Regions from separate parts of the Homo sapiens genome. Here regions 2 and 3 are each linked to region 1. Evidence: fine-mapped expression QTL. A gene starts in region 1. Each other region holds a variant in brackets. All regions are shown on one strand. Distances are between the middles of the regions.

Region 1 (2,841 bases):
GGTGGCAGGCAGGGGAGGCTTTCCGGACACTGGGTGGAGGCTTGAAGAATGACTAAGAGCTCACTAGCCCGACGGGGATGAAGAGCATTTTAGGGAGTCCGAGGAGCAGGAGCAAACACCCCAAGGTGAGCGCCATGTGATGTATTCAGAAGGCAATGGAAAAAGGCCAGTGTGGCTGTAATGTATTGAACAAAGGGAAGAGTGGCTGGACCTGCAGGGATAGGTCGTCTCAAGGAGTCTGGCTTTTACCCTGAGAGCAATGGGAAGCCATGGAGGAGTTGCAAGCAGGAGAGCACCTGATCATATTGACACACGTGAACTTTTAACCTGACCTCCGTGTAGAGACTGAGGGAAAGGAAGGCAAGACCAGAGGCAGGGGGACACCAGCAAGGAGGCTGGTCTTCGGGGCCAGGTCTGGACTAGGGTGGTGGCAGCAGGCACAGGGAGAAGTGGGTGGACTGGAGGGCCATGGAAACACCACATTGGCAGGCCTTGATGAAGGAGAAGCAGCTGGTCCATTCTTTTGAGCCTACCACCCTGGTAGGCCAACTCCTGGCCAAGTCCATGCCATTTCTTGGGCTGGCTTAATTGTCTCCCTGTTTGGGAGGCCGTGGGGTGAGGGGTCTTTCCTCCATGCTCTCTCCATCCTTAGCCCCAGCCCAGGGCCTTGCACACAATAAAGCACTCGGTGAGCACCAACGCGTGACACAGGTACATCAAACCGCATTGGCTCTGGGAGTCTGGCTGTATCTCGTCGCCCAGCCTGGGAGATAGCCCCGTTTGCTGTGCCTTGTGAGCCCCGGGTCCGTCCCAGGATGGCCTTCCACGATGAGCGGCTCCCTCACTCTTCTCCTCCTTTCCTGCCTGCAGGACTTCCTGGATGATCTCAGCCGCCAGCCCCCCGCCCCCCTCCCCGCCCCTGTCTGGGATCTCCATCTGTAAAATGGATCTAGGAACGGTAGTTCTCGACTGAATTAACCCGACAGCATCTGTGGAAGTCGTTGGCCCTGTGCCGGGGCCAGATCGCGCAACTAGGAGCGGGGGCCCTTCACGTGGCGGAGGCTTCCCGGCCTGGGGGCCACGGGCCCGGAGGAATTTGCCTGGAAGTTTTCCATCACGGCAGAGCCTTCTGGAGCTCGCCCCGTGCTCGACAAGGGGAGCCCCAGACTTGATTTCTCCAGCAGCCCCGCGGGGCGGGGCCGAGAAGGGGCGGGCGGGCGGAGGACGCTGGCGGGAGAATGTGCGGAATGTGCCAGGCGCCTCTACCTACCCCAGGAGGGGCAGAGGAAGGGGCCGGCCGAGGGGAGGGGCGAGGGGCGAGGCTCCGGGCGGCCGGAGAAAACCTGTTTGTTCTCCTGCGGGCGGAGCCCAGTCCGCGCCTCCTCGCCTCCCTGCGCGCTCCCCGCTGTGCACCGCGCCCCGCGCCCCGCGCCTGCCTCCCCGGCCCGGCCCGGCCCGGCCGGGCGCCGTCCACCCGAGGGAGCCCGCGCCCTGCGACTGCCCGACCCTCCACCCGCCCCACGAGCCGGGCACCGGTGCCAGGTAGGGCTGTCGAGTCGCCATTGGATGCGGCCCTGCTTGGAGGCAGTGGGGGGCACCCAGTCCGTGCCCAGCTGGGGACAAGTCAGGGCCTCAGTTTCCCCATCCATAACCCTTACCAGCTCCAAGCATCTCTCTTCGGGTTCCCCCCGGGAGTCAGTGGATTTCTGGTTTTCGCTGTGAGTGAAAAGACTGACAGGCAGAGGAGGCCAGCGTCCCCTACAGAGGCAAGTGTCCCCCTTGCCAGCCTGATCCCTCTGTCTTGCCCTTTAGGAAAGACACGGTTTAATTGTTAGTAAACGGCGAGGGGCCAGGATGCTCTGAGAGTTGACTGCAGGCCTTTAAGAATCAGGGAATCTCATATCCCTCCGTCCCCCTGTGCCCATTTTATAGATGAGGAAACTGAGACCCAGAGGCTGGCTCACCCAGAGGATCCCCTCAATCGCCCTGGGGCCTGTGAGGTGCATGTGCTGGGTACAGGGCAATCTTGGGGAGGGCCATGAGGATGGTGGCTGCTCACACTCAGACAGAAGGCGCCGAATCAGGTGTCACTGGGTGTTATCGACAGGATCGGCACTGCACCAGCTCTGTGGCTGGATTGTTTTGATGGGGGCAGAGGGAGCCAAGAGTCTGTCCTCTTTGGAAAGGCAGAGGGATACCTTGCCTTACAAAAAGGCCGAAAGCTCAGGTGCTCCTGCCTGATCTGCCACTTCTGAGCTGGGGACACCTGGGTACTCTGTCGGTTTAAGGGGGTGACACGTCAAGCTGCCTCCCACCCAGGGCTGCTGGGGACTCAGATAAAGTAGGTGGTGGGTGTGTCCCGGCTTTGGGACATCTGAGGCATGGTAGGAGTTGTGTTCTTGCTGAGCCGTCGGCACGAAGCCTTGGCATCATGGGAGGCCCCAAAGCTGTGAGCCCCGAGAGAGGGCCTCTCACACCCCATCCAGCAGTGCTTGAGGCTTCAGTACCTGGACTAAGTCCTGCCTTGGTCTCATGGCCCTTCAGACTTCTGGCTGTCGTACCTGGCTGGGGGCGGGAGGCAGGGGTGCACAGGTTGATAGGCCTGAACAGAGCTGCAGAGGTCCTGCCTTCCCAGGGCCTCCGCTCCTCATCTGAAAAACAAGGGGCAGCTCAGAGGCCAGCAAGTGGCCAAGACACAGATGCACAGATGAGGGGCCAGCCTTCTGGCAGGCCTTGGTGCCTCCGCTGTTCCCCTCATCGCTCCCAGGCCACTTCAGGATGGGAAGGAACAGATCCCTCTCACCTGCCCCTCCTTCCAGCAATTCCCAGCCCCTGGCTGGA
Region 2 (2,841 bases), 48 kb before region 1:
TCATGTAACCTGGTATGATTACATGTGTTTAGGAATAATCAGAATAAAGCCTAGAAAAGAACAGGTTGGGAAGTTAGTTTTGGGTGGTAGAAGAATGGTGAGGCTGATTTTGTTAGTAGATTGCACATGGACAGATGAAGGTAAAGTACAGTGCCAGCTCCAGCTGGGCCTGGTGGAATCCAGTATGAGTGCTGTTTCAGATGGGACACCCCAACTGGGAGGGAGGTGGATCTAGAGAGGATGTCTGGCCCTGGCATCCCTTGAGTCTCTTGCATAGCTCAATTGTGTTGATGTTTAAGGAATAAGTAGGGAGATTTGTTTGTTTTTTAAATCTAGAACATAATTTCTTTAAGATCTTTCATTTCCACAAACCCAAGTTGGATTTACTGTATATGAGCTAAGGAAATTGGAGGTTGTCATCTTAAGGAGGCCCAGATACAGTTTTAGAAAGACCCTAGGGAGGAGGGATATCACAGGTCCTCCTCACAGACACCCATAGCCAGCTTGTCTGGTGTGCAGCAGCCACAGTTTGGCATCAACATCCTGAAATGAGGGTATTTAAGTGCCTGCATGTGCTACTGTGTCCTTTCATTATGCCCAGTCACCAGAGTTGGAATTACCCAAGGAATCGTGTGTGTTGTGGAGGCTGAGACATAAACACCATGGCTCTCCCCATTTCTTCAACTTCCTTGTAGTTCGGAGGAGGGAAAGCAGAGCCCTGGGCTCATCCATCCTCACTGCAGCCCCACCAGGAGATCCCATCAAGGCGGTCTTAGATTTCTAGGCTGAGGCAAGAAGGGGTTGGGCGATGAGCCCAGAGCCACACAGCCCAGCCCTGTTGTGGCCAGAGAGGGAAAGGGACTGACTTTGTCCTGCAAGTATGGAGACTGCTTTCTTCTTTCTGTTGTTTTCAGTGCAAGCTATCAGCTACCAAATGGCTGCCGTTTTGTTTTGTTTTGTTTTGTCCTTAGAGAAGCGCCCAGGGATCAGCTATCGGGAACAAGAAGGTATCACTGTTTTTTGGGGTATTTTTTAGATTGTCCAGTTTTGGTCATAGGTGGTTTGATTTCCTTTCACTGAATACAAAGCATGGATCTTGTCATCAAACCCAACCAAAGTCAATCTCAGTGTCATTCGCTATCTCTCTTCCCTCCTTACTGATCCCAGGAGAGAAGGTTAGGGTTGCACTAGTGATGGAACACCAGGATGATATAAAGCTTCCAACTTGGCTCAAGAAGAGTTCCAAACAAACAAGTATATCTGCCATTGCAGTGGCTCATGATATGTAAGTCTGGACTCTGTAGCTTCCAGTCCTCACTACCCTGGTCTTCCCCACCGTTCCTCTCTTTCCACAGGCCAAGAGATGCACAGTGATCGG[T/G]GGCTCTGGATTCCTGGGGCAGCACATGGTGGAGCAGTTGCTGGCAAGAGGATATGCTGTCAATGTATTTGATATCCAGCAAGGGTTTGATAATCCCCAGGTGCGGTTCTTTCTGGGTGACCTCTGCAGCCGACAGGTAATGGACCATGCAGCCTTGCTGATTTCCCACGAGCCCACGAAGGGAAACCACGATACTTCCCTTGCTCAGAAGCCAGCCAATTTGTTTGAAAAACAATTGTTTCATTGTGAAAATTTTCAAAGTTATAGGAAAGAACACCACATTCTTACTGCTTAGAATGAATAACCATCATCTCTGTCACAGATACTCAGCTGTGTCCTGGTAGCACAAAAGCAGCCATGGTCAGCACTTAAATGAACAAATGGCTGTGGCTGTATGCCAGTGAAACTTGACTTCAAAAGCCGTCCATGGGCTGTATTGTTCCAACTGCAAAACAAGTGTGTGCTGGGCCACAGGGTCTTGATTTTTTAATTGAGATATAATTCATGTACCACAAATTTCACATTTTTAAAGTGTGCAATTCAGTGATTTTCAGTACATCCACAAAGCTGTGCAACTGTCTCCCATGATCTAACTCCAGAATATTTGTATTACCCCAAAATGAAATCTTGTAGCCATCCCCTCTCTTCCCCTCCCAGCCCCTGGCCGCCACTCATCTACTTCCCATCTATGGATTGGCCTCTTCTGGACATTTCATATAAATGGAATCATGTAATATTTGTACCTCTGTGCCTGACTTTTTTCACTTAGCATGATGTTTTCAAGCTTCATCCATGTTGTACAGGTATGAATATCTTGAATTTTATTAGATGGTGCCAAATGGCTCAGCAAAGCTGCTATGTCAATTTTACCTCCATATCCACAATGTGGCACAAGCCCCATTGCTTCACATCTTTGCCAACACTGGGCATAACTAGACTTTTTGGTGTTGCCATTCTGAGAAGTATGAAGTGGTGCTTCACTGATGTTCAGAGTCACATGTCCTCCCTGACCAAGTAACCAGCCACTCTGCCACTGGGTGATCGGCTTTCAGGCTTCCTCCTGTGTGAAATGTTTGTCTGTGTCCTTTGCCCCTTTGTCTTTGGGGTTACCTTTGCTTCCTTGTTGATCTAGTTGGGATGCCAATCCTGTGCCCGTTGTACTTATTATGGATGGCTTCCCTCAGCCTGTCACTGGGCCCTTATTCTTGGCTTTGGTGTCATTCGCTATATGGTTTGTTGATGAAATATTAAGGCCATTGCTTCCGCTGCAAAGTTACGGTTGTTTTCTCTCCCGTGCTGCCCACACCTCCAGGCCTGGAGATGGGGTAGACATCTTTCATGCTCATCATTGCTGCCTCCGAACCGTTCTCCCTCATGCTGCTCTAAGCCTCTCCAGCTTTGAAGAGGATACCCTCAGACTGTACAAACCCCGACACCGTTCCCTCCTTGTGGTGGCCACCCAC
Region 3 (2,500 bases), 95 kb after region 1:
GGCTCAGGTCACCCAGCACCCTCCTTGCTGGAGTGAAGGCTGGCAGCAAGAGAGGTAGAGTGGCCCTCTTTCTCAGGAATGCCTGACGGATGAGAAAGATGGCTGAGCTCTGCGCAATGCAATGAGAGTGGTGGGTGTGGAGATTGTGTGACAAGCTGCAGTGTTGCCATGGATACAGAGAATACCATGGACCATGGGTTGCTATTGCAGGGGAGTGTCATGTGGTAAGGCCAAGGTCCTTGAAAAGCAACAGGTGATGTCATTGGCCTCCAACCAATAAAGCGTACTAGCAAAAAGGAGGGTGGGAGAGGGAAGGCGAGATGGGCATGAGGAGTGAGTGCTGAAAGGACAGGAGCTCATGGTTTCAATTGTGTGGAAGCTGAAATCAGGCAGAAAAGGGACCCAGATAAGGTCCCCACTGCCAGACTGCAGGAAACCAACAACTCTTGCCCTAGAGATGGCCCTACCCTGCAGAGTCTGTGAACCCTGGCAGGCAGTCCCCTCTCCCCACTCTTTGCCAGGGTTCCAGAGCCCCTCCCAACAGGGCCCAACTCACAGCTGCTCACCTTGCTGGGTTGGCCCTGCTGGCAGCGCGGATGCTGCAATAACACAGCCACTTCAGACTCGCTCTGCTTTTCAACTCTATCCAGTTAGGCAGTTCCTGACTCAGGCGTGATGGGTCCTGCTTCACTGGATCTGTCCAAGGCAAAGCAGAGGTATTTTGCTGTGATTCTGTCCCACACACATGTCCCTGCCCAGGCCATGCCAATTCAGACTCTGCATAGGTGTTCACTAGGACCCTGGTGCAGGGATAGAAGAAACTGCTCAACTGACAGAGGGAGCGGAGCGGGGGGAGGAGTCGGGGGACGAATGGTGAGAGGGGTGGGAGGTGAGGAGGGAGGTAGGGGGTGGGGGCAGGGGGGCTGCTGGTAGGGCAGAAGGGATCCTAAGGTAAGGTTGCTGCCCTACCCCCACTGCAAACTCCATTCCCTCCCAAGCTCCGCCCCTACAGCCATGTTGCAACCCTTCCTAAGCCCCACCTCAAAACCTGCACCCCTGCTGCCAAACTCTGCCTATAACTAAGTTGCACCTCTACCCCAAGCTTAGCCCCCCACCAAGTCTAACCCCTTCCACCACCCAAGTCTAACTCGTGCCTCAAGCCCTGCCCCCACCCACAGTCCAACTCCTACCCCAAGCCCTGCCCCCTCACCAAGTCCAACTCCTACCCCGAGGCAAGTCTAACTGATATCCCCAAATCCCCTACCTCCATTCCCCTG[C/T]TCCCCCCAATCCCCACCCGGTTATCTACATACACCCACACCACCGACATCAGTGGAAGCAGGCAGAATCTAGGAGGGGAAGGTTCGAAGCCACTTTCCCTCAAGGGCAAGGGCCAAGAGCTACTATCCTGACTGCAGTGTCTCCGGGCAGGTCAAGGGTGGAATAGGTCTCCCTGAAGTTTGTTTGTTTTTCTCTGAAACGGAGTCTGGCTTTGTCACCCAGGCTGGAGTGCAGTAGCGTATCTCGGCTCACTGCAACCTCCGCCCCCTGGGTTCAAGTGATTCTCCGGCCTCAGCCTCCTGAGTAGCTGGGATTACAGGCGTACACCACCACGCCCGGCTACTTTTTGTATTTTTAGTAGAAACGGGGTTTCCCCATGTTGGCCAGGCTGGTCTCCAACTCCTGACCTCAGGTGATCCACCCGCCTCGGCCTCCCAAAGTGCTGGGATTACAGGTGTGAGCCACCGCGCCCGGCCAGGTCTCCCTGAAGTTCTGCCTGGAAATGGCAGGGATTCCTTGGCGTGCTGGGTGTGATCTAGTGGGATCCCGCCTCCAGGGAAACCTATGGCCACCAGCCCCTAGACCCCGTGGAAAATAGCAAGAGTTACTGGGGGGTTCCCCCGTAATCTGGGTTGCTGTCCGAGCCCGGGGTCCAGCTCCGTACCTGCCGGAGGTGCCTCCAAGCCGGAGTTCCCGCGCAGCGCGACCACCACACGTCTATGGCGGCTGCCGCCTCCGTGCTGACTGCGCCACGAGGCTGTGGCGGGAAGAGGTTGTCTGGTGACGACCGCCCCCCTACCCCATGAGCGGAACTGCACACGGCCCGCTCACGGTTGCGCACTGGTGACATAAACCCTCCTACTTCCTGCAAGGTGGTTCCTCACCCCACCCACCCCCGTGCCGACGACGGTGGCAGCCAGGCTCGCCACGTGCCATTTGGCCCAGCAGCCACTGTGGCTCTTCCTCATTGGAGGGGAGCTGTGGCGTCCCAAGCCCATGGGTGAAGGGCCGGGTGCAAATCACCCAGTGCAACGTATAGGCCACGTGAGCGCCCTTATAAACGAGTCATAGCCCTCGTTTATTTTTTATTGGACTGTTCTAGGGGAGGAGGGCAAAAAATACAGCTACTGCCTGCATTTCACAAGGGCATTAGTTTTTTTTCGCTGCTCACTGAGAGCCAGATGACTGAAAATATTCCATTCTCCCATTATTCTCCTGATTT

Which allele goes with the higher level. Positions count from the first base shown, and alleles are read on the strand shown. Sizes are in standard deviations (SD) of each study's normalised expression. Not every link is listed here.
As copies of T replace C in region 3, the expression in esophagus muscle of the gene that starts at base 1,371 in region 1 goes down (small effect, 0.19 SD a copy in GTEx).

What was found. PIP is the estimated chance that this variant, and not a neighbour inherited with it, causes the effect.
Region 2: its variant is the best candidate, but not a certain one, in a credible set for the expression of ZNF185 in thyroid (GTEx, PIP 0.54).
Region 3: its variant is the best candidate, but not a certain one, in a credible set for the expression of ZNF185 in esophagus muscle (GTEx, PIP 0.77).

The regions. Positions count from the first base shown.
Region 1 is chrX:152,896,697-152,899,537 of GRCh38, forward strand. It overlaps ZNF185 (zinc finger protein 185 with LIM domain), which reads left to right and starts at 1,371. Exons shown (of 25, transcript NM_001395254.1): 1 at 1,371-1,542. RefSeq lists an enhancer at 623-1,123.
Region 2 is chrX:152,848,910-152,851,750 of GRCh38, forward strand. NSDHL (NAD(P) dependent 3-beta-hydroxysteroid dehydrogenase NSDHL) reads left to right here. Exons shown (of 8, transcript NM_015922.3): 3 at 1,356-1,514. Among named protein-coding and RNA genes, the nearest start is that of NSDHL, 19 kb to the left of the region's middle. The variant T/G (reference allele first, on the strand shown) is at 1,379.
Region 3 is chrX:152,992,091-152,994,590 of GRCh38, forward strand. It overlaps PNMA5 (PNMA family member 5), which reads right to left and starts at 2,026. Exons shown (of 4, transcript NM_001184924.2): 1 at 1,943-2,026; 2 at 567-696. The variant C/T (reference allele first, on the strand shown) is at 1,278.